Regions from separate parts of the Homo sapiens genome. Here regions 1, 3 and 4 are each linked to region 2. The links come from fine-mapping of genetic effects on gene expression. A gene starts in region 2. Each other region holds a variant in brackets. All regions are shown on one strand. Distances are from middle to middle.

Region 1 (8,110 bases), 75 kb before region 2:
TATGCAGAGCACCCGATCCTGTTGCTGTTTGGGGTGCCACTTGTAACCTGCATGGACCTCGGGGGACTGAACAAAGGGGGGCGAATGTGGGAATAAAAGACAAGACACAAAAGAGTATATTTGGAAGAAGAGGTCAAGGGGCATCTTGCCTCTAGTGGACAAGGGCCGTGAGCTTTACACAGCCCTCTGTATTTATTAGGTGAAAGAGACAGCAAGAAAGTGGGAGGATGGTTGTCGGGTAATTGTCAGTCAGCCGTTTGGTTCACAGCGGGCTTGTGAACAATAGGCGCTAGATTTCTCAATAGATAACTTCCAGGAGCCCGGCGCCAGGGCATGATGTCCCTCAGCAAACATTTTGGTGGCAAGGCAGTGTGAGTTTGCCCACATCCTGCATTCATGATAAACAGTTCGCTGTTTGATCATATAGCCTCCAGCGGAATGCTGAGTTGGTCACGTCCCGCGGGCCTTTGGCTCCCTGCAGGGTAACTCTGTCTTAGGATAACTCTTAGGCTCCACCTTAGGGTAACTCTGTCTTAGGCTCTTAAACTCTTAGGGTAACTCTTAGGCTCTGTCTTAGGGTAACTGTCTTAGGCTCTGTCTTAGGGTAACTGCCCTGTCTTAGGGTAACTCAATTCTTCATCACAGCTGCAGGTCACCTACTTGCAGAGGAAGAGTCTGCTTTAGTCACCTGCCACGTGGACAAGCTTGGGTGCATCCTAAGGATGTCGGTTCAGAGGGAGAAGGTGGCTGGGTGTCATGTGTTTAGTCCCTTTTCCAGCTTCACCAGACAGGCAGGTCACTGCTGCCACAGGGAGAGGGGCTGAGGGGCAAAGGGCACCTCTGTGGTCACTCTTGCCTGGAGACACAAGGCCCTCCTGAAGGACCCCTCAACACTTAGGAGCATTAGTACAGCGGGATTAAGGGCTTTTTTTTTCTTCAAATTGGACAGAGGGACAGACTGCTGAGGAATACATGTGGATTCTTTCCTTCTGTGACACTCTGAAAGAATTGTGACTGGGGCATGGGGTGCCACCTTCAGAGGCAGGAGTGTTTAGGAAATGCCACAGTGGCACATGACCTGCGTGGGCTCCAGCAGCAGCAGCAACCTGCAGGGTAGATAGGGCAGCTGAGAACACGAGAGCAGAAGGGCGGTGACTCTATCATCTCGGAGGGTTCTGTTCAAACAACATTTTCTAGTATACAATGAAAAGAGACCTGGTGCCAGGCATGGTGGCTCATGCCTCTAATCCCAGCACTTTGGGAGGCCGAGGCAGGTGGATTACCTGAGGTTGGGAGTTCGAGCGAGACCAGGCTGGCTAACGTGGCGAAACCTCATCTCTACTAAAACTACAAAAATTAGCCAGGATTAGGCACGCGCCTGTAATCCTCAGCTCCTTGGGAGACTGAGGCAGGATAACTGATTGAACCCAGGAGGTGGAAGCTGCAGTGAACCGAGATGGTGCCACTACACTCCATCCTGGGTGACACAGTGAGACTCTCAAAAAAAAAAAAAAAAAAAAAAGAGGCCTGCTAGTACTCATCTCATAGGGCTGTTAGGAGGAGTAAGTGAAATCAGACATACAAAGCATTTAGCTCAGCTCAACCAACGCTCATTCTCGCCTTGTCCCCACTGCATAGCCCCTAACCCCAAATATCCCAACATAGCTCATAACAATAAGATTCTTGTTTCCCCAACATGTTTAATTTTAAGAATAGAGATAATGGTCAACTCTTGAGAAGAACCAAATGCTGGTGCCATCTTGGAAGTGCTACATCACCTCCTCCTCTTACTTCCTTGAACAGCAATATTTCTGGATTTCTTCTGCAAGCCCCAGGCAGTGCAGGATGCGTTTCTTTTCAGCAGCCAGTTCCTTCTCAGAGAACTGGCCCAAGAGTTTCTGGACAAATATATTTTGATCTTTCAGAAATATGTTCTTATTCACTCCTACATTTGGCACATTCTCCAAGGACCCAGACTTGAAATGGAAGCTTAAATATCTGTTTCGTTTTAGACCAGGTCCTTTTTCTTCAATCCATGACAGTGGACTGCAAAGACAAAAGACAAAAGAATCATGTTAGAGATTACACAAGAGCACAAGTGGGTGCTTGCTGGCACCAGACCGCCTGGTAACATGTCCTTGTCAGGCACCCATCCTCCTTGCAGCCACCAGCCTCCCAGAGGCTGTGGGTGACTGTGTCAACCTCACAGCCAAACAGTCTTTAATTTAATTTTGCCATCAGGCAGGGGAATTCATTCAGTGACTTTTTTTTTTCTGGGATGGAGCCTTGCTCTGTCACCCAGGCTGGAGTGCAGTGGTGCAATCTCGACCCACTGCAACCTCTGCCTTCTGGGTTCAAGCAATTTTCCTGCCTCAGCCTCCCAAGTAGCTGGGATTACAGGCGCCTGCCACCATGCCTGGCTACTTTTTAAAAAAATATTTTTAGTAGAAATGGGGTTTTGCCATGTCAGCCAGGCTAGTCTTGAATTCCTGACCTCAAGAGACCCACCTGCCTTGGCCTCCCAAACTGCTGGGATTACAGGCGTGAGCCACTGCACCTGGCCTCCCATGACTAGTTTTAAAAGCTCATAGTACAGTCTAGCAAATGTTCTGGGAGATGGCAACAAAGATTAACTTTTATTTTGGCACTGAATAAAAATAAACTTGAGGTATTCTACGTAGTCTGCCTAAGAAAATTTCTCATGTCTTTTTTTTGAGATGTTTGCTCTTGTTGCCCAGGCTGGAGTGCAGTGGTGCAATCTCGGCTCACTGCAACCTCTGCCTCCAGGTTCAAACGATTCTCCTGCCTCAGGCTCCCCAGTACCTGGGATTACAGGCACCTGCCACCACGCCTGGCTAATTTTTGTATTTTTAGTAGAGACAAGGTTTCACCATGTTGGCCAAGCTGGTCTTGAACTCTCAACTTCAGGTGATCCAACTGCCTTAGCCTCCCAAAGTGCTGGGATTACAGGCGTGAGCCATTGTGCCCGGCCTCTCATGTCCTTTTAAATAATATGGAATCTTGGGATTTGAGGGAATGCAGAATGTCAAGATCTTTCTTGTACCTCAATTTCCTCACTAGTAAAAATAAGTAATGGTAATAAGTATACAGCTTTACCTATCTTGCTGTGACATTGTGAGATAAAAATGCAGTTTGTGGCCAGGCGTGGAGGCTGATGTGGGTGGATCGCTTGAGCCCAGGAATTTGAGACCGGCCTAGACAGTATAGCAAAAACCCATCTTACCCAAAAATACGAAAATCAGCCAGTCTCATAACCCGGTCTCAAAATAAATAAATAAATAGATAAAAAAATTTAAAAATGCAATTTGGGACACGGAAAGTACTATGATTTTAAGAAGTTACTATTATATTATATTAACTGCTCTCTGTCCCAATCCCTCATCTGATGCTTGCCTCTCCTGTGCAAAAATGAGAGCCAGGGCTGGGTGCAGTGGCTCATGCGTGTAATCTCAGCATTTTGAGAGGCCAAGGTGAGCAGATCACTTGAGGTCAGGAGTTCAAGACCATCCTGACCAACATGGTGAAACCTTGTCTCTACTAACAATACAAAAATGAGCCGGGCGTGGTGGCAGGCGCCTATAATCCCAGCTACTCGGGAGGCTGAGGCAGGACAATCACTTGAACCCGGGAGATGGAGGTTGCAGTGAGCTGAGATCACACCACCGCACTCCAGCCTGGGTGACAGAGCAAGACTTTGTCTCATAAAAAAAAAAAAAAAAGAGAGAGAGAGTCAGCCTCTGCCTCCCCAACATCTTGCTTCCTCATTGACTTCTACTCAACTTCAAGACCAAACAAGGCACCGCCTCCCATCAGAACCATGAGCTGACCTAGTCCAGGTTCCCCTTCCCTGTGCTCCTACAGCACCCTACAGTATCTTTACCTCTAATTACAGGGTGCTACAACTGTCTGTGTATAGGTCTGACCACGGCTGCAATCCTAACACTCACATGGCCACACCAGAGCCCGGGCCACCACTGTTGGTCACTCCATAGGGAGCACTGCCAAGTTCCATGTGCTTTGCTTTCATCTGCCAGGCCTCTCTGCCTTTTCCTAGCGAAGAAGAAACTCCTCAAAATGGACTAGATCAGGCTTCATTCAGGAACTCAAATTCTTTTTTCTTTTTAAAATACCCAGTGTCTGCTTCTTTTACTACCAGGAGACCCACCTCTCTGCAAAGGCATCCAGAAACACTCTAAAACCCTTACTGTTCTAAATAATTTACAGAGCCCAGGTGCTTTGGGAGGAAAATTATGAATGTGCTTTTGTTAAAAAAGACCTGGTATGAGAAATAAGTCAGAATGTTTTGGGAACAGTGTGACAGGGTGATGGGATGCTAAAGCTGAAACACAGACCCTCACACTCTGGCTGCACTGAGGGGTGAATGTGTGGCCCTGCGGGGAACATGTACAGTGTTAATGGCAGGGTCTAGGGAGTAGGTGGATGGGTGTTTACTTAAAAATTCTTTCAACTTCACAATATGCCCGAAAACTTTCATAAGAAAACACAGGAAAAAAATCAGGTCACAGAGTTAACATAATTTCTTTTTCTTTTCTTTTTTT[TC/C]AAGAAGGAGTCTCGCTCTGTTGCCCAGGCTGAAATGCAGTGGCCTGATCTCAGCTCACTGCAACCTCTGCCTCCCAGGTTCAAGCAATTCTCCTGCCTCAGCCTGCCAAGGAGCTGGGACTGCAGGCATGCACCGCCACACCGGCTAATTTTTGCATTTTTAGTAGAGACAGGGTTTCACCATGTTAGCCAGGCTGGTCTCAAACTCCTGACCTCAGGTGATCCACCACCCTTGGCCTCCCCAAGTGCTGGGATTATAGGCCTGAGCCACCACGCCCAGCCAAGGTAATGTAATTTCCACTACTAATCTGCTATGAATGACTTGCATGACTTAGGCAACCTGCTGGCATTCTGTAAGCCTCTGTCTACTGACTGGCAGATGGGATTATGTTTGTCTTCTTTACCTCACAGGGCTGCTGAGAGGATGAGATGAGGCAACACAAGTGCAATCTCAGCACTCCATCTGCAGAAGCAGACAGCCCTTCTGGAGCTGGGAGTGAGGGTCTAGCCCCTCGGGGCTCCCTTTGGATCATACCTGCAAATGTACTAGGATGTCCTTAAATTTCCTCCTCCTCATGGCTTCTCATGACTTACCTTTTCTTCTCTGTCTCCAGACACACTGTCATTTTCATATACTGATCTTCCTTTCGCTCTTCCAAAGTGGCAGACACAAGAGAAAGCTCCCCAAAGAGGGAGACCAGCCAGGTCAGGCGAGAGATGCCGCTGAATGCAGGGAAGCCAAACCGCTCTTCTTCCAACGGGCCAGCTGTGGGAAATCACAAATGCTGTGGGAACTGGGAAGCAGGAATGCCAAGTGGAAAGCAGGACAGGGGGGTGGGGGTGGCGGGGGTGTGAAAAGATGTGGCCGAGTGATCAGTACAATGGGACCTTGCCTTATGTGGTAGGCAGGCAACGTGATTAATGATACTGATGAAAACTCAGGTGGCTGAACTTCAACTCTATCATAAAAGCATCTCTGTCTTTTCCTGTTTATTAAATTGAGTTTTAGTAAAACATTCTACTGGAAACAGCAGTCAATCCAGCCAAACAGGATAATAAAAAAGTTTCAGGCTTCTAATATATACATCTATGTACACATATGTAGATATACATACACACACACACACACACAACACATACCTACATATACATATATATATATCCTCTTTAGTGATTTAAAGTAGTCTGGTAAAAGTAGAAGAATCAAAGTATTTTAGCCCTGCAAGCCTGTATTCTTATAACTACCTGATGTGTAAGTGGCAATAAGGTATGAAGGTATTATAATAGCTATGGAGAAAATGGTAATACCTTTGAGCTATTTCAATATCAAGAAAATTGATACAATGTTAAATGTTTTCTTAGTCTTCCTAATCTTGTGAACAAAAAAGTACACTCAAAAGAGTATTGGGGCCAGGCGTGGTGGCTCACGCCTGTAGTCCCAGCACTTTGGGAGGCCAAGGTGGGTGGATCACTTGAGTTCGAGACTAGCCTGGCCAACATGGCAAAACCCCGTCTCTAGTAAAAAAAAATACAAAAATTACCCGGGCATAGTGACGGGTGCCTGTAACCCCAGCTACTTGGGAGGCTGAGGCAGGAGAATCACTTTAGCCCGGGAGGCAGAGGTTGCAGTAAGCCTAAAAAGGCCACGTACAGTAGCTCATGCCTATAATACCAGCACTTCGGGAGGCCAAGGCTGGCAGACTGCTTGCGCCCAGGAGTTCAAGACCAGCCTAGGCAACATAGCAAGACTCTGTCTCTACAAAAAAACACACAAAATTAGGCGGGTGTCGTGGTGCACACCTGCAGCCCCAGCTACTCAGGAAGCTAAGGTGGGAGGATCATCTGGGCCTGAGGAGTTCGAGGTTACAGTGAGCCATAATTGTACCACTGCATTCCAGCCTGGGTGACAGAGTGATACCCTATATCAAAAAAATATATATATATAAACATAAAAAAGAGTATTGGTGTGAGAAATCCATTTGGTCAAGATACTGCTCCCGTCTGCCTCCAGCCAAAATCTTAAACATAACCTAAGTTTAAAAGACTTCATATCTGTTACATTACATTATAAACAAAACATTTCTTATGACCTTGATATTCACTTAAAACAATGACTAATAACAATGAGTATATTCTTAAAAAGTAATAAGTTATATATAAAACCAAACAAAAATTAGAATTTTCATAGACAATATGGTTTGAAATCACTGGGGCCTAAGTATCAAACTTACAAAACAAAAAGACTTCCCCAGGGCTGGTTACTGTCTGCTCTAGTTCTTTTTTGTTTGTTTGTTTGTTTGTTTTTGAGACAGAGTCTCGTTGTCACCTAGGCTGTGCAGTGGTGCGATCTCGGCTCACTACAACCTCTGCCTCCTGGGTTAAAGCGATTTTCTTGCCTCAGCCTTTCAAGTAGCTGAAATTACAGGTGCGTGCCACCATGCCCGACTAATTTTTGTATTTTTTTTTTTTAGTAGAGACGGTGTTTCACCATGTTGGCCAGACTGGTCTCAAACTCCTGACCTCAGGTGATCCACCAGCCTCAGCTTCCCCAAGTGCTGGAATTACAGGCGTGAGCCACTATGCCCAGCCTAGTTCTTTGGACAGAATACTAAGCAGCCACCCACAACAGTTCCAGCCACTTAGAGAGCTGAGCTCCAATCCAGCTCTGTCTCATGACCGCTACGTTACCTCTGTGAAGCCACTCATGCCTCTGAACTTCAGTTTATCTGTATAATGGGGGTAGTGAATACCACTTTATAGGATTGTCATATGGATTAATGCACATCACAGTTACTTGTACTTAACTTACTTAACTTAACACAGTTTCTTGTACAAATTAATGGTTTGTACTCTCATTATATTACCATTTTCAAGGATGAAGACAGATTTTGAAATGAGGTTCTACTATGTATCAGTGGCTTTACCGTGCAAAAATGCCAGGCCATGTCAGGGTCTCCTTTCTGTAATGAAAGCCCTCAGGAATGGTGGCCCAGGTGCCCAACGATACGGCCAGAGAAGGAGCCCATCCAAAAGTGGCCACAAGAGCAGGAGCTTCCTGCATGCCCATTTCCTATTGCTAACGGAGCTGCTCAAAGAGTGACCAACATCAAGTAAACAGCTACAAATACAGATCAGATACTGTGGTCAGCTGGGCACGGTGGCTCATGCCTGTAATCCCAGCACTTTGGAGGCCAAGACAGGTGGATCACTTGAGCCCAGGAGTTTGAGATGAGGCTGGGCAACATAGGGAGACACTGTTTACACAAATTTTAAAATTAGCTGGGTATTGTGGCGCACATCTGTGTTTCCAGCTACTTGGAAGGCTGAGGTGGGAGGACTGCTTGAGCCTGGGAGGTTGAGGCTACAGTGAGCTATGATTGCACCACTGCACTCCAGCCTGGGCAACAGAGTAAGACCTGGGCAACAGAGTAAGAACAGAATAAGTAAATATTTATTATTTATTATAAATAAATAAATAAATACTGTGGTTGCTGCCAATGTCCTTGTAACTTGCTAGAGGAGGAAGGGA
Region 2 (8,110 bases):
AACATAGCAAGACTTCATCTCAAAAATAAATAAACTGAAAAAAGAACTAGCTCTTTTACTTAATTGATTTCCAAAATTATCTTTATTATTTCATTTTCTATTATTTTTAATTTTCCCCCCAATTTCTTAAAGTGGAAGCTAAAATAATTTAACTTATACTTTTTCTTTTCTTATATTTTTATTCCTTATATTAAGAATGCAATGCTATAATTTTCCTCTCTAAAGCACTACTTTAACTGCATTCAATGCCTTTTGATATATATTTTTATTTTTATTCACTTCAAAATACGCCTGTTTCCTTTACCATTACTTCTTTGACCCATGAGTCAAAATGTATACTTAATTTCAAAAGAAGTGTGTTACTTAATTTCAAAATATTTGTGTTTTCCAGATATCTGTTACTAATTTATAATTATGGTAAGACAAAAAACTTTATACAATTTCAATGTATTTAAGTTTATCAATGTTTATGAACTGGCATAAAAATATTCTACACACTTAAAAGGTGCATTTAGCTATTTATGGAGTGTTCTATAAATATTAAACAGGTCAAGTTGGTTAATAGTGTTGCTCCAGTTTTTTATGCACTTACTGATTTTTTGGTCTAGTTTTTCTATTAATTGCTGAGAGATGAATGTTAAAATCTCCACTACAATTTTCAATTTTTCTTTTCTTTTTTCTTCTTTTTTTTAGATGGAGTCTCACTCTGTCACCCAGGCTGGAGTGCAGTGCTGCAATCTCGGCTCACTGCAACCTCTACCTCCTGGGTTCAAGCAATTCTCCTGCCTCAGCCTCCTGAGTAGCTGGGATTACAGGTGCACGCCATCATGCCAGGCCGATTTTTGTATTTTTAGAAGAGACAGGGTTTCACCCTGTTGGTCAGGCTGGTCTTGAACTCCTGACCTCGCGATCCGTCCACCTTGGCCTCTCAAAGTGCTGGGACTACAGGTGTGAACCACCGCACCCAGCCTACAATTTCCAATTTTTTGAATTGTCCTGTCAGTCTTTGCTTCACATTTATTGAAGCTCTGCTATTAGTTCCAAACAATTTTTTTTATTTTGAGACGGAGTCTCGCTCTGTTGCCCAGGCTGGAGTGCAGTGGCACGATCTCGGCTCACTGCAACCTCTGCCTCCCAGGTTCAAGCGATTCTACTGCCTCAGCCTCCTGAGTAGATGGGATTACAGATGCGCACCACGACGCCTGGCCAATTTTTGTATTTTTAGTAGAGATGGGGTTTCACTATGTTGGTCACACTGGTCTCGAACTCCTGACCTCGTGATCCGCCTGCCTTAGCCTCCCACAGTGCTGGGATTACAGGCGTGAGCCACTGCGCCTGGCCAGATTCATACAAATTTAAGACTGTTATATCTTCTTGATGATCTAACCCAATTATTATAAAATGTCCTTTATTTTTTGCAATCAGCATATTTGAACAGCTACAATTTCCTATAACAAAATTATAGGAGGTGCACATTATTTCCTATAACAAACATGTAGAGCATGTGCTTGGAGTACATGTAAAAGCAAACACAAAAGCAAAAAACAAAAAACATGTAGAGCAAGCATTAACTTTACATTAAACAGGACATATTGTAAGAGATAAATAACTTTTTCAGGGTTAAAAATCAGGATATCACAGGTGAATTTCTTGTAAACAAACTAGGCAGGACTGAATTTCATGCTGGTAGTAAGATAAGCAAGAAAGGACATTCATACCAACCTAGCTAATGTTAATTTTCTCAGTGTCTTTGAGGTAAATACTGTCTAACTTTTACTTATTTTTATGACAGGACATTATGGCACGCTCAATGCTTTGTTTTCTCAAAGCTCTTATGCCAAAATTTTCTTCTTTCTCTCAATAGGTGGATAGTTCCTTAACATGATAAAAGATGTCTACTTCAGTCCTTAAAACCAGCATCATGCTTAATGGGAAAATTCTAAAGATATCTCATTAAAGATAGGAATAAGACATAAAAGTCTACTGTCATTATTATTATTAAATATTTTACTGGAGATACTAGCCAAAACAATTAGATATGAGAAAGTAGAGGTATAAAACTTGGAAAGAAGTAGGTAAAACTATTTCAATGATAAGATTGCAATCTTAGAAATTCTACCAGAATGAACTCCAAACAATAAAGCAACTTAGTAAGGCAGTGGATCACAATATTAATATGCAGGAAATGATACTTTCATGTATACATACAACTACGATGTGTAGTAACCTCATTCAGATTTGATAGTTATAGGATCCTGCTGCTCTTGAGTGAATCTCAAAGCAGCCATTTAACCACTTAACAGTAGCCCTCATACAGCATTATAGTCAGCCCCTCCTCTCTTCACCTCCTACCCCTTCCCTGGCTCCTTAGTTTAAAAGTATCAAAACAGACCCTTTCTTTAAATATATAGAAAAAGAGAGGTAGAATGTGTATTTTGATGGGTAATTTTGGCTATAAGAAACAGAATCCCTGACTTAAGGTGAGTTAATAATAACTAAAATTTATTAAGCACTTAAAATACTTACAATATGACCAGCACTATTTTAACCCATTTAATCTTTATGGCATCTCTATCAGAAAACAGTAAGGATCCCAGCACTCTGGGAGGCCAAGGTGGGTGGATCACTGAGGTCAGGAGTTCAAGAGAAGCCTGGCCAACATGGTGAAACCCCTTCTCTACTAAAAATACAAAAATTAGCCAGGCGTGGCAGTGCATGCCTGTAGTTACAGCTACTTGGGAGGCTGAAGCAGGAGAATTGCTTGAACCCGGGAGGCAGAGGTTGCAGTGAGCTGAGATCATGCCACTGCATTCCTGCCTGGGCGACAGAGTGAGACTCAGTCTCAGAAAAACAGAAAACAAAAACAATAAGGAAACTTATTAGACATTCCTACAAGGCATTCAGATACAGGGTGAGCTCCAGGTTTGGAATGATGTCACCAAGGACATTGTTTTATAACTTGTTCAGTTGTCCTCAGCATTGGTCCATCAGTTTTATTCCTTGTGATGGGCAAGATGGCTACTAATGACAGTGTGGGATAGATGTTTCGACGTCAAGAGGACAGTATATCAGAAACTTTCTCCTGAGCATGAAATAGAGGTCCTTTCCTTCAGTCAGATTGCGCCAACCTGGGTCATATACTCGTTCCTTGATTAGCAACTATTTCCAAAAAAATTCTGTGTGAAGACTGGTTTAATCAGTATCATTTTGATTCTGGGAACAGGGCAGCTATCTGAATAAAATAAGGATTTTGGTACAAAGGAGTTAGAGGAAAATGAATATTGGATAGGTAACATTATTCACTATAGAGTTTTGTTTTTAATGTAAAATTTAGACGACAAAAAAATTCTGTGTGATGACTGGTTTAATCAGTATCATTTTGATTCTGGGAACAGGGCAGCTATCTGAATAAAATAAGGATTTTGGTACAAAGGAGTTAGAGGAAAATGAATATTGGATAGGTAACATTATTCACTATAGAGTTTTGTTTTTAATGTAAAATTTAGACGAAAACTTTAGCAGATTTAAGTCCAGTGATAGAAATGTTAAGTTCTGAGTTTTCAAGCAAATGGTCAGAAAAGCCTATTTAATGTTTTATTACTTACAAAGTAAACATATTTCTCTTTCTGGTACAGAACGGGAGCTAATTGATCTCGGGTTCATTTTCATGAACGTTGTATGAAATGCACATATACCAAACCTCATAAGCTTTTTATTAGTTGATTTATTCTTTGAAATATTAAGCTTGGTGTAAGGTATTATAACCTCAATCTCTTTGAAAATGTAATAAGTCAATAATCAATGTTGCATCAATGAATATTACTCAGTGGATGCCTATTTTATTTCTTCTTTTTCTCTAAGAACCATTTAAATAGTCCTTATGGCCGAGCACTTCACAATCTGATTAGTTTCTATTAATTCTTTGGAAAAGAAACATTCTGGGAAGTCAGAATTCAGCGGTAGGTTGCTTTGATAATGTGCTCATTTAGCTAGTGGATTCCAGAGTGATAGAATGTATGTTTGGCAACCTAATTGTTGTGGAGGAAGAAAAGAACTTCTGTTAGAAGTTTTTAAAAAAGTTTAAAAATTGTTTTTACCTCATCAAAAGTTTGATGTCTTGTGAGTTTTATAGCATGCATAATATATTAATGCCATACATGACACATGTAAATATATATATATTTTTTCTGATAGGGATGTGTGAGCAAGAGTTTAAAGAAGAATGCCCCAGTCTAAAGTTAATTAGTCTTGGAGTGATGGCTTCGCAGAGGAAAGATACTGGATTTCAAGCTTGACATTAAGGTGATAATAGTGGTGACTATGGAATAATCAATATAAAAATAATAACAGCTAACAGTTACTGAGCGCCTACAAACTGCCAGACACTACTCTAAGTGCTTCACATCCTCATAACAAATTTATGAGGTAAATGCTATTATTATCCACCAGCCTTCTGAAATTTTCTTACCCCGTTACTCCCTGGTGTTAACTGGGTACTTAATTTGTCGAATAAAATAAAATTTAGTGCTGCCAAATTTGTCAGCTGAACGGGGCGGCAGGAATTTCAGTGCTAGAGTGGGGGGCCAGACGGCCCGGGGCTTCGTGTCCTTGGAGGCCAGCGGAAGCGCCGCATACCTGTGAGGAGCAACGTGAGCCGGTGGCTTATATTTCCTGGGCTAGTGCTACTGGACTGAATGCATTTGCAATAACCGGACGCAGAAAAAAAAAAAAAAAGCGGGGACCAGGGGAGGCGAAACCCTTCCCGGCGCGAGTCCGAGCGTCTGAGAAGCAGAAGCCACACGTCCCGGCGACCTAAGTTCTGGATCAGCCGGCCGGAGGACCCGTGTTAGCATTTACAATCCGAGGTGAGCTGAAGCCTCCGGTTGTCCCGGTTCGACGCTCTAGCCCTGCGAGCAGCCGACGCCGGAAGTCTCTACTGCTCCCCGCTGGCGCGCAGGACCGCGGGCATTTACCCGTGCTTTCCCAAGCCTGGAAGAACTCGTCATGCTCTTTGTAGCGTGGTGCTTCTGTTGCTCACAGGTTAGTCTCCCGCGGTATAAGAGTCTCCGTCTTCCCCCCAGCAAGAAGCGTTTGTTCCTGCAATTCGGGGGGCCGCCTTTGCGCGCGGGGTGCGCTGCTTCTTGGAGAGTTCCCTCACGGGTCACATCGCGGAGGTTCGCGCCGGCGCCGGGTCGCGGCCTCCCTGCGCAGCTTCTTTGGCACCTGGTAACCTTCAGTGGCTCCGTCCGCTCGGAGTTAGGAGGCTGTGTCGAGCTAACCTTGACCTTGTCCTGCAGTTTTTGCTGACCATCCCCAACAGCACACTGTAAAGAGTTAGGGTCCTCTCGAAGAGTTGGGACTGGGCACTTTTGTTGGTAGTGCTAAATTTCAACACCCTGAGGAGTACGCTGCCCAAATTATTGTAGGAAAGAATTACCTGGTTTAGTGGTTATAATACTTTTTGTCCCCACCACACTTGAATAACAGAAAAACCCTCCCAACAGGGGCTGACTGCAAAAGTGATTTTCTGTGTAGGGGACATTGGATGTATTTATGTATATATCAGTGCCTATCAGTCTGTATGTGTGTTTGGGGGTGGATGCTGTGTAATTTAAAAAAATCTATGGAGATTCTGATAATTTGATAACCTGTTTCTCCGGTCTTCCCCTGATTCCTCCCCATTCTCCCCGGAGGGCTATTGCTTTATTTCTGAGGTGGCTCACGTTTGGATAGAAGTAGCAACTCTCCGCTTACACCTGCACGTTTAAAACGCATATCAGATTGTGTTATTTCTGTCCTCAGAATCTTCCTGGCCTTCCCGTTGCTTTCAGGATAATACACATTTCTTAGCCTAACTTCAAGGGCCTACAGGGTCTTGATTCTGCTGAGTTTTTCAGTCTTTGCTACTTTCATGGAAAACACACCTGCAGGTACACTCATATTATGCTCCCACCATGCCAGTCTACGGTAATTTAATAACTTTAGATATGGCAAAGTTTTATATGGTTTACTCAAGTTTTAATTTTTGTTCTAGCATTTAGCCAAAATCGATTGAATTCATAATATTGCTAGGCACTGTTTTAAAAACGGGATAAAATGAAAACAAAACAAAACACAAAACAAAAGTCTTCAGTCCTTTAAAAAAATAAAACAGCTTCCTGACACATAGTTCACCTACCGTAGAGTTCACCATTTAAAACGTAGCGGTGCCTCACGCCTGTAATCCCAGCACTTTGGGAGGCCGAGGCGGGTGGATCACGAGGTCAGGAGATCAAGACCGTCCTGGCTAACACGGTGAAACCCCGTCTCCACTAAAAATACAAAAAATTAGCCGGGCGTGGTGGCGGGAGCCTGTAGTCCCAGCTACTTGGGAGGCTGAGGCAGGAGGATGGTGTGAACCCGGGAGGTGGAGCTTGCAGTGAGCCGAGATTGCGCCACTGCACTCCAGCCTGGGCGAGAGAGCTAGACTCCATCTCAAAAAAAAAAAAAAAGAAAGAAAACCTAAAAGTAATTAGTACATTAGTACATTCACAAAGTTGTACAACCATCATCATAAAATATGCTGTAATCTTCTTCACCTTCATTAGTTGGTTTAATTTTCTATTTCAGACAGACTCCAATAAGTTATTCTTGTATTCTTTTGTTCATGTTTAATATGCTGCATTCAGTTTGTGAGAGCCATATTGGAACAATTGAACATTTTCATCACTCCAAAAGGAAACCCTGTACTTATTCAGCAGGCTCACCTGACTTCCCCATCCCCACTCCCCATTCTAAGCCCTAAGCAACTATGAATTGACTGACTGTATATTTGACTATTCTGGATTATTCATGTGAGTGAAATCATACAGCATGTGGTCTTTTTCAACTGGCTTCTTTTACTTAACATTCATGTTCATCTGTGTTGTATTTAATAGCATGTGTCAGTACTTTTTTTTATTGCTGGTTAATCTTTTATGGGTATTACCACGATTTATTTTCCATTAGTTAGTGGACGTTTGGATTGTTTCCACCTTTTGGCCATTATGTGTAATGCTGCTGTGAACATTCACCTACAAGTTTTTGTGTGGACATCATGTTTTCATTTCTCTTGCGTATGTGCCTAGGAGTGAAATGGCTGGGTCATATGGTAGCTCTGTTTAACATTTTAAGAAATGGTCAGACTGTTTTCCAAAGCATCAGTGTGCATCTTTTTAACATTCGCACCAGTAGTGTATTAGGGTTTTGATTTCTCACTCCTTGCCAACACTTGTCATTATCTGTCTTTCTGATTCTAGCCATTCCAGTGGGTGTGAAGTGTGTGTCATTGTGTTTTCATTCTTTTTCGTTGACATGTAATAATTGTACATATTTAGGGACTACAGAGTGATATTTTGATAAATGTATACAATGTGTAGTGATCAAATCAGGTAATTAGTATGTCCACCACCTGAAACGTTCATCTTTTCTTTGTGTTGCGACCATTAAAAATCTCCTAACTTTTTGAAAATATTATGGTTTCAAATCGTATTTCCCTGATGGCTAATGATGTTGAGCATCTTTTCAAGTGCTTATTGCCCATTTATTTATCTTCTTTGGAGAAATGTGTACTCAGATCCTCTGCCCATTTTTAAATTAGGTTCTTTTTTGTAATTGAGTTGCAAGAGTTCTTTATATATTCTAGATACAAGTCATTTATCAGATATGTGATAGTCTTTTAGATTATGCTACCGTTCTTTTAAATGAAAAGCACATGAGATTAATTTTTTGTAGCCCTGGAGACCTCCTTATGGGTATGTGGCTGTGGTTTAGAGAGTGATGGTTTTCCAACAACTACGTGGGAGGCCAGGCCCAGGAAAAATGCTGTGAAAGAACCCGTGAGGAGCATTTTAAGACTTGAAAAATGAAGCAAGGAAAAACTTTATAATTTGCCATTCCGTATGGAGTTTTGTCTTTATTGATTTTTAGGAGTTCTTTGTGTAGGGATTTAAGCCATTGACTGTTAGATATGTGGCAGATATTTTCAATCTATTTAGTTAACTTTGTTTTATATTTTTTACTATATTGTTTTACATTTTTGTGTAGTCAGGACTTTGCCTCTAAAAGCCTTCTGGCTAATAGTTTAGGATAT
Region 3 (8,110 bases), 140 kb after region 2:
ATCATTTTAACTAGAGCGTCAGCTAGAAATGTATTTTCTCATAAAGACAGATACAACAAAGTGTTATATTGATACATTACTATTTGTCATTACACTAATAAGTGGGTAAACCAGGGACTCAGTATAGCATACTGATTAAAAGTATGAGCTCTGGAATTAAACCTATGTGGGCTTGAACCCTATAAGTGGCACTTGACAGTAACCTTAGGTGGTTTATTTAACCTCTTTTAGTTTCATTTTTCTTTTCTTTTCTTTCTTTCTTTTTTTTTTTTTTTAAGAGACTGGGTCTCTCTATGTTGCTCAGGCTAGTATTGAACTCCTGGCCTCAAGTGATCCTGCTAGGATTAAAGGCATGAGCCTCCATGCCCTAAGTCTCATTTTTCTAATCTGTATAATAGGGACACAAATGGCATCTACTTCACAGGGTTCTAAGAATTAAAGAATAATATATTTCAATTGCTTAGCATGGTACTTGCCACACAGTAAGTGCTCAATAAATATTACTAATCACACAAACATCATTAAGCTGTGATAGTCATCACCCGTAAACATCCACTGAATCCTTAGGTTGAAAGACAACTTAGAAATCATACAGTATTTTACCTAACACCAAATGCCAATGTCTTATTTCAAACTGTGAGGTAATCTTTTCCACTACTGGGTACATATTATCTTAATAAGGTCTTCATTACAAGCCTAAACCTGACTTCAGTTGAAGGGTTACAGTCAGGGTCCTCTGCTGAGCAGTACAGACCAGACCTCACTCTCTTTTCCACATGGCAGTCTATCAGATACTGAACACAGCAAACACCATCTGTTAGCTGCCACTCCCTCTTCCCTTTCCCAATTTGCAATCAATCCCCATCCCCATGGGTTTTTTTTTTTTCCTTTAAGAGACAGGGTCTCACTCTGTTGCCCAGGCTGGAGTGCAGTGGCACCATCATAGCTCAATGCAGCCTTGGACTTCCGGGCTCAAGTGATCCTCCCACCTCAGCCTCCTGTATAGCTGGGATTACAGGCACATGCCACCATGCCCACCTCCCCATAAGGTTGACTCCCTATTATGGCTCAGCAGAAAATGTGCCAACCAAATCTGAAGCAACTAATCCAGGTATAATCGATCAAAGCATTACATCATTATTATTTTTGTTGCTCCTGGAACAATACAACCTAAGATTGATTGTTAAAAAACTTGACATGTTTTCATATTTCAAATTGGGCTGATAAACTACCTAGATTTTTTTCCACCTTGAATTTTTATCAAGTCAGTATCCTCATACTATATTTTAAAAATGATTGCTAAAAAATTTGGAATAATCAACAGCATAAACAGACAACCTACAGAATGGGAAAAAATATTTGCAAACTATGCCTCCAACAAAGGGATGATATCCAGAATCTACAAGGAACTCAAAAAACGAGAAAAAAAAACAACCTCATTGTTTTTTTTTTTTATATGAACAGACATTTTTTCAAAAGAGCAGCAAACAAACACATTAAAAAATGTTCAACATCACTAATCATCAGAGAAATGCAAATTAAAATCACAATGAGGTACTGCTTTACAGCAGTTGGAATGGCTATTAGTAAAAAGTTAAAAAACAACAAATGTTGGCGAACATACAAAGAAAAGGGAACGCTTATACACTGCTGGTGGAAATGTAAATTAGTTCAGCCACTATGGAAAGTAGTTTAGAGATTTCTCAAAGAACTACCATTTGACTTGGCTATCCCATTACAGGGTATCTGCCCAAAGGAAAAGAAATTATTGTATGAAAAAGACACCTGCACTCATATGTTAATCACAGCCCTATTCATAATAGCAAAGATACCAACCTAAGTGTCCATCAGTGGATGACTGGACTAAAAATATGGTGTGTATATGTATCATGGACTACTACACAGCCATAAAAATGATGTCTTGTGCAGTAACATGGATGGAACTGGATGTCATTATCCTAAGTGAGATGACTCAAGCAGGAAGTAAAAAACTGCCTGTTTTCACTTTTAAGTGGGAACTAAATGGATACACAGGCATAGAGTGGAAAAACAGACCAAACAGTAAGAGAGTGGGAAGGGGGTGAGGAATTAAATACTACCTATTGGGTACAATGTACGCTATTTAGGTGATGAGCACACTAAAAGCCCAGACTTCACCATGACCCAATATATCCATGTGACACAAATGCACTTGTACCCCTGAATCTATTTTTTTAAAAAGCTTTCTAAAAAATTAAGTGCAAGGCTTTAATTGCCCTGTTAAATTCTTTTTTGTTGTTGTTTTTGAGACACAGTCTCGTTCTGTCACCCAGGCTGGAGTGCAGTGGCACGATCTCGGCTCACTGCAACCTCCGCTTCTCGGGTTCAAGCAATTCTCATGCCTCAGCCTCCTGAATAGCTGGAATTACAAGCACATACCATCATGCCCAGCTAATTTTTTGATTTTTTTTTTTTTTTTTTTTTAGTACAGATGGGGTTTCGTCATGTTTGCCAGGCTGGTCTCGAACTCCTGGCCTCAAGTGATCCACCCACCTCGGCCTCCCAAAATGCTGGGATTGTAGGCATGAGCCACCATGCCTGGCCTGCCCTGTTAAATTCTAACTTCTAGGCTTTGATCTAGCATTCTAGACTACTGACATAATTTTGAGTAATTCTTCCTTCCCAGCTATTGTTAACTGCAAATATAATTTTCATGTCCTCCATGTTTTTATCATTAGTAATATAAATGTGGAATGACAAATCCTTAAGCATAGCCCTATGGCTGTTCAATTTGGTAACAACCTACCTAGCAGCACCCTTATTCAGATAAAAGTTCTTTTGTTCACAGAAATATGAAAGACTTCTACAGATATGGGAGAGAGTAACTATAAATGAATTCCTCAAAGAGTAATTAATACCTTTCATTTTATCCCACAAAATCATTAGGCTAACATCTCCATCAAGTTTTAAAAGGTTCCCAATGATCTCTGAATTCTTTTAAGACAGAAAACAATTGTTATTAATTTGATATTTTCATACCTACATGTCTGAAGTTTCAAGAGAAGAGAAAGTTTAATTTGTAAAAAATTCGTCTGAAATGAAG[T/C]CTCAACATATAATTGGCAGCAAACATGTTCCTGGTAAATTAGAAATGACTCAGTAGAACGGCCCTCAAACACATATCACACACACAAATGTTTACTGTTGCCACACCTGACATTCAAAGCAATAAAGTACTGTGCAGTAAGTAAAAAACTACTTATTACATAGCCTGAAAGTCTATTTTTAAAGACCAAATGGAAAGACAGCTAATTCAGCAAACAGAATTGGAACTCAAAATTATGTCAGTAGTCTAGAATGAAAGATCAAAACCTAGAAGTTAGAATTTAACAGGGCAAATTAAACACGGACTCACACACATTGCTAACCTGTGAACTGTGGGAGCCCTGTTACAGAACAGCCATTGCTAAATTCTGGGGCCTCTTCCCCATACTTATTCATCTGTTGCTCATGCTCCTCACCCATTCCTTTAGGTGCTAGAATGCAGTTCCCACGGCTCTCCTTTCATATCAATGACTACACTGACACCACCTTTGTTTTTCTGGAAACATTCCTCACAGTTCTAGATTTATTCTTTTCTTTCCAACATATCCTGTACTATACTAGGGTCAGCAAGTTTTTCTGTGAAGGGCAAGCAAGATGGTAAATATTTTTGGCTTTGTGGACCAGAGGGTCTCTGCAGCAATGACTCAAGTCCACTGTTGCAGAACAAAAGCAGCCATACAAGAAAGGTAAATGAATGGGTATGTTTGGCTTCCAATGAACCTTTTACACTGAAATTTAATTTCATAAGCTTTTCATGTTATTAAATATTACTCTTATTCTAATTTTTTTAACTATTAAAAAATGTAAAACATAAAAAATGTAAAAACAGCTTGCAAGGCTTTCAAAAATAGGTGGCTGGCTGTAGTTTGCTGACCCCTGCTCTATCCTATGCTGAATAAAACTCTTCCATCATTCTAATACCACATACCACTGAAACTGACATTATGACAGCAGGTCGCAATGATTTGAGGAAGCATGCATGCCTTCATCTCTAAATGACTGGTGCAATGGGAGGGGGACCCTTCAAACCACTCAAGGAGGAGTCAGAGAAGATAATAACGGATTTCTTGGAGCTGTTCTACACAGCCACATTGTATAAAGAAAACAGGAGATTCAGCATTCAAGCTGCAAAGTCCCAGTGTATATGCTCAGAATTACATTGACAGAGTTCCCTAAATTCCATACCTCAAAAGGGCTCCAACATGCATATTTTACCATGACTTTATGGTAAAAATTGTGACTGTACCTCAACCTTTAACTTTAGGTTATTGAGTCCTCTACAAAACATTTTAAAAATGATGTTTCCCTGACATTATGGGCCATGGTTATATACAGCTCTCTTGGGGCTGATGAGGTCCAAAGGGCATAAGATGTTTGTTGCACATCTACTTTTTTTGTTGACTCAAAAGCCAAACTTCTTCCTGGAATAAACAGTTGCCATAATTTTCAGGTATATTTTTTCATTTCAAAAACATCTATATTTTGCTAATAGGTACAAAACTGAGAACTTAGGTTTTCATTAAATATTTTGGGATGAATATCAGAAATGAATACATTTCAGAACTACTCACTGAAAACATATTCCAGAGAGGTGGGAAAGGTAAGATACATAAACAATTATAACAAGAGGAGGTGACATTTGATTGAGACCCACCAGTCCGAGCTCCCTAAGTCCTTTGCATTATCAGTGCCTAAAAACACTGCTTAGGGAGACAGGGTGAGTATCTTTAGGTAGGTATGTTTGCTAAGGAGTTTGGGCTTCATCAGGCTTAAAACTGGAACCTATTAGAATACTGAAAATAATTGTTTAGAAAAGATAATTCTGGTTGGGCACGGTGGCTCATGCCTGTAATACCAGCACTTTCGGAGGCTGAGGTAGGCGGATTGCTTGAGCCCAGGAGTTCGAGACCAGCCTGGGCAACGTGGCGAAATCTTGTCACTACAAAAAATACAAAAATTAGACAGGCGTGGTTGTGTGCACCTGTGGTCCTGGCACTTGAGATGCTGGGATGGGAGGATCAGTTGAGCCTGGGACATCTAGGCTGCCGAGATCATGCCACTGTACTCTAGCCTGGGCAACAGAATGAGACCCTGTCTCAAATAAAATAAAATAAAATAAAATAAAATAAAATTAAAATTAAAATTAAATAAAATTAAAATAAAATTATAAAATAAAATAAAACAAAACAGGTAATTCTAATAGTGTTGTGAAGAGTGGATTGCCAGTGATAACTAGAAACAGAGAGGCCAATAAAATAATTCAAAGCAGTAGGTCTGCACTCAAGTACCAGCGTAGGGACTGGGAAGAGAGAATATGTTTAAAAGACACTCAAAGTCAAGATTTATTAGCACTCCCTGGCAGGTGTGAGTTGTACGCAGAGATGAGAGGAGAAAGGAAAGGTGAAAGTCATGGATGACTTTTAGATTTTTAATATAGGTACTGTGTAAATGTGGTACCAGTTATAGTACTGTGTAATGTGGTAGGAGTTATAGTTGGACAGAAGGTTGAGCTGCCTTTTTTGGTAAAGAGAATCCCATTTATTGAAGGGATTCCAAATACAAATTCAAGTGTTGGATTATAAGCAAAGGTGAAGAGATAATAGAATATATAACATTCAGGTAAACATCAGAAAATGCACATGCTAATTTGAGCAGTACAAAGGGGAAGTAAAATAATGTCCAAGGTCCTGTTTTATTCTAGGTTAAAGTGCTTTGTTTATACCTTTATTATATTTATGTCAATCTTATATATTACAACTTGTTGTACTATGTCTCCCAGCTGGACTGTGAGTTTCAGGGACCTCACTTATTCTTCATCTTTTTATCTCCATAGTGCCCTGCACATGGCAGGTGTGCAAATATAATCAGCACACCTAGTATATATACTGCTTATTATTTTGTTAAATAAAAGTTTTATGGCAACTTAACCTCATGACATTTAATATACTGGACTACTTGCCATTCTCTCTTCACTGAATTTTTCTACTGCTCTGACTTGCTGTTTTATTGACAATGGCAACTACTACTGAAATTCCATCCATTCTTTACAGCCCAACTGAAATGTTATTTCCCCCATAAGACCTTCCAGTGGCATATCATCTTGCCTATAAAGGGGACAGTGATTGATCTGTTACATTTGGGAATAGCTTCCAGAGCCTAAGGTAGTGCTTTTATGTACTTGATACATAAGTACAGTATTTGCCTAATTACACTGGAGTGATGTCTTTTTTCTTTTTTTGAGACACAGTCCCACTCTGTCACCTAGGCTGGAGTACAGTGGCACTATCTCTGCTCACCACAACCTCCACCTCTCAAGTTCAAGGAATTCTCCCGCCTCAGCCTCCCAAGTAGCTGGGACTACAGGTGTGTGCCCAGCTAATTTTGTAATTTTAGTAGAGATGAGGTTTCACCATGTTGGCCAGGCTGCTCTCAAGCTTCTGACCTCAAGTGATCCGCCCACCTTGGCCTCCTAAAGTGCTGGGATTACAGGTGTGAGCCATGTCTTAAACGTAAAGAAGTTCCATTCAGGAAAAACCTAGAATGGATTTTGTCTTCCTTATCGCTGAAAGGACCAAGGAAAAGACCCTAGGCGTAAAAATCAGTGAGTCCATTCAAATAAGACATTAGCATGCGTGATAAGAAAAGGCAGGGCCTTACAAGTCAAACTTGGTTTTAAATTCTGGCTAACAAGTGTGTAATACTGGGCAATTTATTAATCCTTTGGAACCTGGGATTCCTCATCTGTAAAATGAGATCAATGGCACTTTACCATACAGGGCAGTGAAGACTATACAAAATTACATCTTTAAAGTGTGTAGCATTCAGCAAATGATCAATAATCAGTGGCTATTTTTATTGTTTTTGGCATTAATTTCAGATCTATGATATAACCAATGATAATAATTTAAAAAAAATATCAGAACAGGAGTTCTGGAGGTGAGCTATTAAGTCTACATAATGTGTAAATTCTCTCAAGAAATCTAGTTAACTTCTTACTTACCTGAAGAGGTGACTATAGCTACTTAGCTTTCTAATGCATTTGGTTCAATAATCATATTTTATAAAATTGTGTCATCTATGGTTTTATGAAAAGATTAAAATTCAAATTCTTACATTCATGTATTTTAAATTAAGATTTTAACATTTGAAGCATGAACTTTTCAAAATTAAACAGCTGACTGACTTAAAGTACCTGCCTAAGAGCAGAAGCCATACTTTCCAAGTAACTTTATTGTTGAACCACAAATATGGCCAATTTTCTTTTATCTATCCAAAGTATCAGATTACCCAAAACTGTTTGTAAATAAAATTCTTCAAACTAATGACTAGCTGTCAAGAAATCTTAAATAACATCTGTGTTAAAACAAAGCAATTTCTGCATGGATATTACTTAATAAAGGTCTTTATTTGTTAAAAAATGATAACTTATGACACACGCTTAAGTTCTTGTCAGATACAAAAACTGAAGCTATTACCTACAGCCATCAATCTAGGTAAGGACACACAGTCCCCAAAATACCCACCCAGAGTCCCCTTTCAGTTTGAATATTCTCTTATTCTCTGATAAAAATCCTCTCTTGTCCCTATTACCCCTGACTGCTCTGAGGAGAATGAGATAGGACATCCCTAATTTACTTTAAGGCCCCAGTGGGAACTTAACTATATGACACTGAAGCTTGGTCATGTTTGTTCCAATGTAGAACTCATTAACAGATCCTTTCCCCTGTCTCTACTAAAAATACAAAAAATTAGCCAGGCATGGTGGCAGGCGCCTATAGTCCCAGCTACTCGGGAGGCTGAGGCAGGAGAATGGCGTGAACCCAGGAGGCGGGTCTTGCGGTGAGCTGAGATCGCGCCACTGCACTCTAGCCTGGGCGACAGAGCGAGACTCCATCTCAAAAAAAAAAAAAAAAAACAAAAAACAATAAAAACATATCATTTCATTAAAATGACAGGAAATTGCTTTAGTCATAAGATACAGACTACAAATTATTCTTTGAAAAACATGTGTGGTGTAATGGGAATGATT
Region 4 (8,110 bases), 21 kb after region 2:
CAGAACGAGACTCTGTCTCAAATAGCAAAAGAAAACAAGACAAAAAAACCATATATATGTATTTAAACCTCAAATTGTACCCCTCAAATATATGTAATGACAATGTGTCAATAAAAAAAAAAGTCCAGCTAGAAAATGAAAAAAGTTTAAAACATGATAGTGGAAATGAAAATCTTTGGAAGGTTGTAAGATAATGGTCAGGAAATCTCCTAAGAAGTAGGCAAAAAGACAGAGGACACTTAGCTGACTGTTCCTGAGGTTCAATGTTTATACAGTTGAGTTGCAGATAAAATAGGGGAAATGAAAAGGTGAAAATAATTCAAGAAAACGACCAACAGTAGAAGATTGAAGTTTGCAGATTGAATGTGCCTGCCATGTGTTCAGTCTAATAAATATACCCACACTGGGGCCCATCATTAGGAAATTTCAGGACACCGTGTGGTAAAGAGATGATTCTGGAGTGAAAAAAACCCAGATCACATATACAGGATCAGGAATCAGAATGACTTTGGATTTCTATGTAGCACCCTGGAAGTGTGAAAGCAGTGAAGCAATGCCGCCTTCAAAATTCTGGAGGAATATGAGTGTAGTGGCTCACACCTGTAATCCCAGCACTTTGTGGGGCCGAGGCAGGTGGGTTACCTGAGGTCAGGAGTTGGAGACCAGCCTGGCCAACATGGTAAAACCCCGTCTATACCAAAAATACAAAAATTAGCTGGGCATGGTGGTGGGCGCCTGTAGTCCCAGGTACTCTGGAGGCTGAGGCAGGAGAATCACTTGAACCCGGGAGGTGGAGGTTGCAGTGAGCCGAGATTGTGCCATTGTACTCCAGCCTGGGCGACAGAGTGAGACTCTGTCTCAAAAAAAAAAGTTTCTTTTTCCCTGGAGGGATAGAAGAAAAACAAAAGAAGAAAAGAAAAGCAAGGGAATGATTAAATCAGGATAATAGCTACCTCGGTGGAGGGAAGGGGATGGGATCAGGGTGTCTTAATGTCTTGGTAAAAGTCCGTGTTTTAATAGGGGTAGTGGACACTTGGGAGTTTATTGTTATTAGTTTCTCTTCGTATTCACACATATATTTTATATATTATATGTTCAGTCATGTGCCACTTAGTGACATTTCAGTCAGCAGTGAACTGCATAGATGACACTGGTTCCATAAGATTATAGTACTATATTTGTACTGCACCTTTTCTGTGTTTAGATACACAAATGCTTATCATTGTGTTATAATTGCCTACAGTATTCAGTACAGTGACATGCTGTACCTGTTTATAGCCTAGGAGCAGTAGGCCATACCATACAGCTTAGGTGTGTTGTAGGCTGTACCATCTAGGTTTGTGTAAGTACACGCTATGATGTTCACACAATGATGAAATTGCCTAACTATACATTTCTTAGAATGTATCCTGATTGTTAGGTGACACATGACTATTTGATACATGTGAAAATACAAACTTTTTAAAAAGCAGATTCCCACCTTTTGACTCAATGGATCAGAGATTCTCTTTCTCTCTCTCTCTTTTTCTTTCTTTTGACAGAGTCTCGCTCTGGCCAGAGATTTTCTAAATAATGGTCAGGAATCTGCATTGTAAGTCTTACTCTTTGGTAAGAATATTACTGTAGTTGATCTGTTGTTCTTATTGTGTTATCTAGTATTACTGATGTGGTATGATGAGCACATAATAAAGTGGGTACATTATTTCCCTACATTGAGTTAACCATGCTCTCTTATATATGTATATATGGAAATTGTTGGTCTCTGATTAGTTACACCCAGGTGTATGCTAGTGACCCTTATTTTTTCATGAGCCTTTAATACCCTCATTTTAATTTCTCTCAGAATATGTTAAGAACCAAACCACAAGATTTCTGCTGTCACTGCACTGAAATTGTAAAAAATGTGGGATGGGATATTACATGTGCTCTAACATGTATTAAGGATCCAACATCTTTTTACAAAAATGAAAAAAAAAAACCATCAACAAATACAGTATTGTTCTTAAAGATTGCTGGTTGGAGCAGTTATCTCAAAAGGCTTCCATGTGACTTGCTACATTTAATGACAATGAAACCCTGGCAGCTGCTTATTGTTTTAGTGTCACTTGTATATTCCCTGGTGGAAAATCTAGTTTTTCAGCTCAGTTGTGAAACAAATATCACAGATACCAGCACTGTGGTGTTTTGGAAAGGGCTTAGCACCTGAGGTTTCAGTTAAGATCTGATATCCAGTAATTTATTTTTCACTTTGGACAAGTTTACCTAACCTTTCTGAATCCTATTGTTTGTTTGTAATTTGGTTCACCAGTAATACCTATTGGAGTTGGGAGAATAAAATGAGATAGTTTATGTCAAGCACCTGCTGCACTGCCTAGTTGTTAAAGAAATATTATTTTCCTTCTGTAAACATCCTTTACTCAAGCCAGACATCTGGGAATCATCCATAAATCTTTTCTATTCTTCACCTACCAAAGAGCTATCCATTTCATCTTCTTAGTAGCTCTAGAAAGGGAATGAGACATGACCCATATTTTATAACATTGGGCTTTAGGCAGTAACTATTAATAAATCAACTGTTTAGGACATATCTTAAAAATATATATATATATATATATTTTTTTTTTTTTTTTTTTTTTTTTTTTGAGACAGAGTCTTGCTCTTTCACCCAAGCTGGAATGCAGTGGTGTGATCTCAGCTCATGGCAACCTCCTCCTCCCAGGTTCAAGTGATTCTCCTGCCTCAGCCTCCCAAGTAGCTGGGATTAAGGCATGTGCCACAATGCCTGGCTGATTTTTGTATTTTTAGTAGAGGCAGGGTTTCACCATGTTGGCCAGGCTGGTCTCAAACTCCTGACCTCTAGTGATCCGCCTGCCTCAGCCTCCCAAAGTGCTGGGATTACAGGTGTGCGCCACCGCATCTGGCAACTCATAATAATTTGAGTTGGTGTTGGAATAATGCTCATTGTTATTTTTACTTTCATTTATTTTTATTTTTAGGCTTAACATTTTCATGTGTGAGTTTAGCCTTGCAGGATGTTAATAGTGAAAAAGTGTGCACTTTGCACAGAGACATTTCTAGGTTCAAATCTAAGTTTTGCAGTCTTAGGCCCTCAGGCAAGTTAGGTACCCCTTCTAGGCTGGCTTTATGATATTTTTTAAGTGTGTTAATAAGATTTAGTTACGGGCTATCACATCATTAAAAGATAAATTTATATGACAGTGCAGAAGGCCAAGAAGAGCCAAGATACTCTTCAAGAATAAAGTGGGACAATTTGTTTTATCAGATATGAAATTAAAAAAAATAAAACTGGATTAACAAAGACAGTGTTATATTGGTGCAGGGATACACAACAGTCTTGGTTAGTATAGTAGATTGGTGGGACAGAATAAGTAATACAGAAATAGACATGTGAATATGTAGATACTTAATTTGTTATAAAGATAACGTGCAGAACGGTGACAATATATTTCAGTAAATAGTGCTGAAGCATTTTATATATATGCATGTTCATGCGTATACACACACACACACACACACACACACACACACACACACAATAAAACAAAGTGAATCAAGACCTGTATCTCATATTACACCCCAAATGAATTCTCAGTGGATTGTAGATCTACCTGTGAAAGGCAAAACAGTAAAGATTATAGGAGATAGGCCGGGCATGGTGGCTCACACCTGTAATCCCAGCACTTTGGGAGGCCGAGGCAGGTGGATAACGAGGTCAGGAGATTGAGACCATCCTGGCTAACATGGTGAAACCCCGTCTCTATTAAAAAAAATACAAAAAATTAGCCAGGTGTGGTGGCAGGCGCCTGTAGTCCCAGCTACTCGGTAGGCTGAGGCAGGAGAATGGTGTGAACCTGGGAGGCGGAGCTTGCACTGAGCTGAGATCGTGCCACTGCACTCCAGACTGGGAGAGAGAATGAGACTCTGTCTCAAAAAAAAAAAAAAGATTATAGGAGATAATATAGGAAAATATCTATGTGACCTTACAGTATGAAGAGTTTTCTTAAATGGACACAAAAAAGCATTAACCATAAAAAATGATATATTGGAATTTATTAAAACCAAGAATTTCTGCTTATCAAAAATCATGTTTAAGAGAGTGAAAGGCAAGCCAAAGAGTAGGAAAAGATGGTTGCAACTCTGTGACAAAGGGATTATGTATAGGATATGGGAAGGACTACAAATCAGTGAGAAAAAGGCCAGTAGAATAATGGTAATAAAAGATAAGAGAGAAAAAGACAAGCCAATAGAATAATGGGTAAGAGAGAAAAAGACAAGCCAGTAGAATAATGGGTAAGAGACTTGAACAGGCACTTCACCAAAAAGAATATCCAAGTGGCCAGTAAAAATAAGAAAAGGTGCCAAAGAGCACAAATCATTAGAGAAATGCAGATTAAAATCATAATGGCATATAACTGTTACACACCTGCCAGAATACTAAATAGAAGGATTAATAATGCAGAGGGATTGTGGGAATATGGAGCAATGGAGCAAGGAATTTTTTTTTTTTTTTAGAAAAGGTCTTGCTTTGTTACCCAGACTGGAGTGCAGTGGTACGATCTCGGCTCACTGCAGTCTTGACCTCCCAGGCTCAAGCAATCCT[C/T]TCACTTTAGCCTCCTGAGCAGTTGGGCCTACAGACATGTGCCACCACACCCAGCTAACTTTATTTATTTTTTGTAGAGATGAGTTCTCACTATGTTGCCCAGATTTGTCTTGAATTCAAGTGATCCCTCCGCCTCAGCGTTCCAAAGTGTTAGGACTTTTTTTTTGAGACGGAGTGTTGCTCTGTTGCCCAGGCTGAAGTGCAGTGGTGTGATCTTGGCTCACCGCAACCTCCGCCTCCGGGGTTCAAGCAATTCTCCTGCCTCAGGCTCCTGAGTAGCTGGGATTACAGGCGCATGCCACCATGCCTGGCTAATTTTTGTATTTTTAGTAGAGACGGGGTTTCACCATGTTGGTCAGGCTGGAAGTGTTAGGATTATAGGCATGAGCCACCATGCCCAAGGAAATTTTTTTACACTGTTGGATATAACCACTTTGGTAACCTGGCAGTGTAGAAGCAGAATGTATGCATGCTCTGTGACTTTGTAATTTTACTTCCACAGAAATGGTGGGCATGTGTGCGTTGAAGTAGTGTGTATAAGAATGTTTATAGCACCACTATTTGTACTAGCTCAAAATAGTTGTGTGGGGAGATTTCCATCAACAGTATAGTAAGTAAATTATTATACATTTCAAACGTGGACTACTGTACTGTAATGAAAATGAACAAACTCAATTTACACAATATGGATGAACCTTAAAAACATGATGTTGAACAAAACCCACACACAAAAGAATCCATACTACTGTATATGATTCCACTTAAATAGATTTTAAAATCAGACAGTACAGAACTAGAATGTTAGAAGTCAAGATGATAGTTACCTTTGGAGAGGAGGGAGGGGTTAATGATTGGAAAGAAGTGGGAAGGAACCAATGGGCTACTGGCAGTCCTCAATTTCTAGGACTCTGGTGGTTACATGGGTGCTTGGTTTGTTTTAATTCATGGGGCTGAACATTTATGTTTTGTGCACTTTTCTTTGTGTGATAGACTTTTAAAAAAAAGAACCACTCAGTTTTTAATACCCAGTAAATATTCAATATGAGATCTTCCTCCTCCTCCATCTAATTTGTAAGTATTTGCATATGCCTTTTGCCCATTAATTTGTTTCAGTCTTGATGTTGTATTTATTAATTTGACTGAACTCTTTAAAGATTACTAGAGACAGTTTTAGCCAGCAAGGCTTTGCCCTTGAAAATTCACTCAGGCTGGAGTGCAGTGGCGTGATCTTGGCTCACTGCAACTTCAGCCTCCTGCAACCTCAGCCTCCTGGGTTCAAGAAATTCTCCTGCCTCAGCCTCCTGAGTAGCTAGCTGGGATTACAGGCACCTGCCACCATGCCCGGCTAATTTTTGTATTTTTAGAAAAGATAGGCATCTCCATGTTGGCCAGGCTGGTCTTGAACTCCTGATCTCAAGTGATCTGCCCACCTCAGCCTCCCAAAGTGCTGGGATTACAGGTGTGAGCCACCATGTCTGGCTTTTTCTTTTTCTTTTTTTTGAGACAAGGTCTTTCTCTGTTGCCCAGGCTGGAGTGCAGTGGTCCTATCACAGCTCACTGCAGCCTCAGCCTCCCAGACTCAAGCAATCCTCCCATCTCAGCCTCTCAAGTAGCTGGGACCTCAGGCATGCACCACCATGCCCAGCTAATTTTTCTATTTTTTTGTGGAGACAGTCTTTCACTATGTTGTCCAGGCTGATTTTAAACTCCTGGGCTCAAGTGACCTGCTGACCTTGCCCTCCTAAAGTTCTGGGATTATAGGTGTGAGCCACTGCACCTGGCTGGGTTTTTTTATTTTTTTATTTTTTTATTTTTTATTTTTTAAGATGTGTTCTTGCTTTGTTACCCAGGCTGGAGTACAGTGCCATGATCTCGGCTCACTGCAGCCTCCGCCTCCTGGCTCAAGTGATTCTCCCACCTCAGCCTCCTGAGTAGCTGGGACCACAGGTGTGTGCCACCATGTCTGGTTAATTTTTGTATTTATTTATTTATTTTTTTGTAGAGATGGGGTTTTGCCATGTTCCTCAGGCTAGTGTTGAATTGAGCTCAAGTGATCTGCCTGCCTCAGCCTCCCAAAGTACTGGGATTACAGGCGTGAGCCACTGCGCCTGGCTTGGATTCTAATATTAATATATACTTTTTTAGCTTTTGAATCAAAATGCTCTAAGTATTTGTGTAAAAGAGATTTTTTTTTTCCAGTAGTGTAGGAGATGAAAACTTTACTTTTATTCAAGTTATGAAAATTGCTTTCATGCTTTATTCTTTAACAATAATTTTGGACAAATAGCAAGATGGCTATCTAGAGGCAGCTAGGAAGAGCCTCTCCCACTGAGACCAGGCCATCAAGTAGGCCAGCACACTCTGAACAGATCTTTGGAAAGAAGGCATTGAGAGTGGACAGAGGGAGGATGCAGATACCAGGCTGAAAGGGGAGGAAGCTGGAAACCCTGCACAGGGTTGCCAAGCACCACGGTTTGTCGGTTTGTCGCTGGCCCTGAGTCGCTCCTAGGGATGGGGTGAGTGAAATTGATGTGGAGTGGCCCACTCTTGCCGCGGACCTCTGGGAGCCTACCTGTGGGAGACCCCATGATTCTCATGAACATCTGAGCTGGCAGGAAGAACTTCCTGGAGAGTTGACAGAGATGGAACTCTAGCCTGCATGGAGCCCAGAGGGTTTGTTGTGGGAACAGTTGCAGTGGAGCATGGCTGTGGATATCCATAACACCATACTCCTCTAGGCAGCTCTAGCCTTTGTTGGCTGCCAGACCTGGACAATAGAGGGCTGGCTTGCTTGTGGAATGGGACCAGTCTGATCTGAGGACCTCCCCCAACTGCCCGTTGCTGGCCTCTGTTAGGGTCCCTCCCTGCCTGGCTGTACCTGCTTGCAGCACAGCCTCAGCTTGCCAGCAGCCATCACTATAGCTTTTTGCCATAAGACCGTATCTGTCCATTGGAGTGCTTTTGCAAATGGACCCAGACCCCTGCCAATGTGCACCTGCCGGTAGCCTTCCCCTGCTGGCACGTGCCCACCTGCAGCCTTCTCCTGCCAGTGTGCATTTGCCCACAGCTTCCCCGTGCCACTCTGCAGGCATGCATGTGCGTGGGAGCCTATTGCTGCCCCACCAGAGTTCTTTTGCTGGCAGCTGCCATCGGAGTGTTGTTGCCAGTGGACCGGGAACATCTCAGCTCCTTCAGAGCAGTAGGTACTTAACCTCAAGGAGCCAGAAAATAAAGCCACAGGCCTGGTCCCAGCACCACAAGGATTAGAGCATGTAGCCCAGGAGTGCTCTGTTGAGCCTTGGCCTCCTGAAAGCATCCACAATGAAGCCAGTTGACTAAACCAAACAAATATTAGTCAAACTTTCAGGAGCATCAAAGAATATAAAAAGCAAGAAGTCCCATGCAAAAAGTAACAACTTCAAAGATTACAGGATATCAGCCCACACAGGTAAGAAAGAACCAGTGCAAGAACTCTGGCAACTCTAAAAG

Alleles and levels. Positions count from the first base shown, and alleles are read on the strand shown. Sizes are in standard deviations (SD) of each study's normalised expression. Not every link is listed here.
With allele C in place of T in region 3, the expression in vagina of the gene that starts at base 4,946 in region 2 is higher (small effect, 0.31 SD a copy in GTEx).

The links. PIP is the estimated chance that this variant, and not a neighbour inherited with it, causes the effect. A credible set is the group of variants that fine-mapping cannot tell apart.
Region 1: its variant is the best candidate, but not a certain one, in a credible set for the expression of COA1 in whole blood (INTERVAL, PIP 0.65).
Region 3: its variant is the best candidate, but not a certain one, in a credible set for the expression of COA1 in vagina (GTEx, PIP 0.73).
Region 4: its variant is the best candidate, but not a certain one, in a credible set for the expression of COA1 in whole blood (INTERVAL, PIP 0.88).

Annotation. Positions count from the first base shown.
Region 1 is chr7:43,800,913-43,809,022 of GRCh38, reverse strand. BLVRA (biliverdin reductase A) reads right to left here. Exons shown (of 8, transcript NM_000712.4): 7 at 5,176-5,347; 8 at 1,681-2,046. The coding sequence ends at 1,788. Among named protein-coding and RNA genes, the nearest start is that of BLVRA, 46 kb to the right of the region's middle. The variant TC/C (reference allele first, on the strand shown) is at 4,581.
Region 2 is chr7:43,726,359-43,734,468 of GRCh38, reverse strand. It overlaps COA1 (cytochrome c oxidase assembly factor 1), which reads left to right and starts at 4,946. Exons shown (of 6, transcript NM_018224.4): 1 at 4,946-5,040. RefSeq lists enhancers at 4,636-4,835, 4,202-4,930, 4,931-5,660.
Region 3 is chr7:43,587,041-43,595,150 of GRCh38, reverse strand. All of the region lies in intron 1 of STK17A (serine/threonine kinase 17a), which reads right to left. Among named protein-coding and RNA genes, the nearest start is that of STK17A, 8.0 kb to the right of the region's middle. The variant T/C (reference allele first, on the strand shown) is at 3,083.
Region 4 is chr7:43,704,881-43,712,990 of GRCh38, reverse strand. The region is part of intron 1 of COA1 (cytochrome c oxidase assembly factor 1); the gene reads left to right. Among named protein-coding and RNA genes, the nearest start is that of COA1, 21 kb to the left of the region's middle. The variant C/T (reference allele first, on the strand shown) is at 4,622.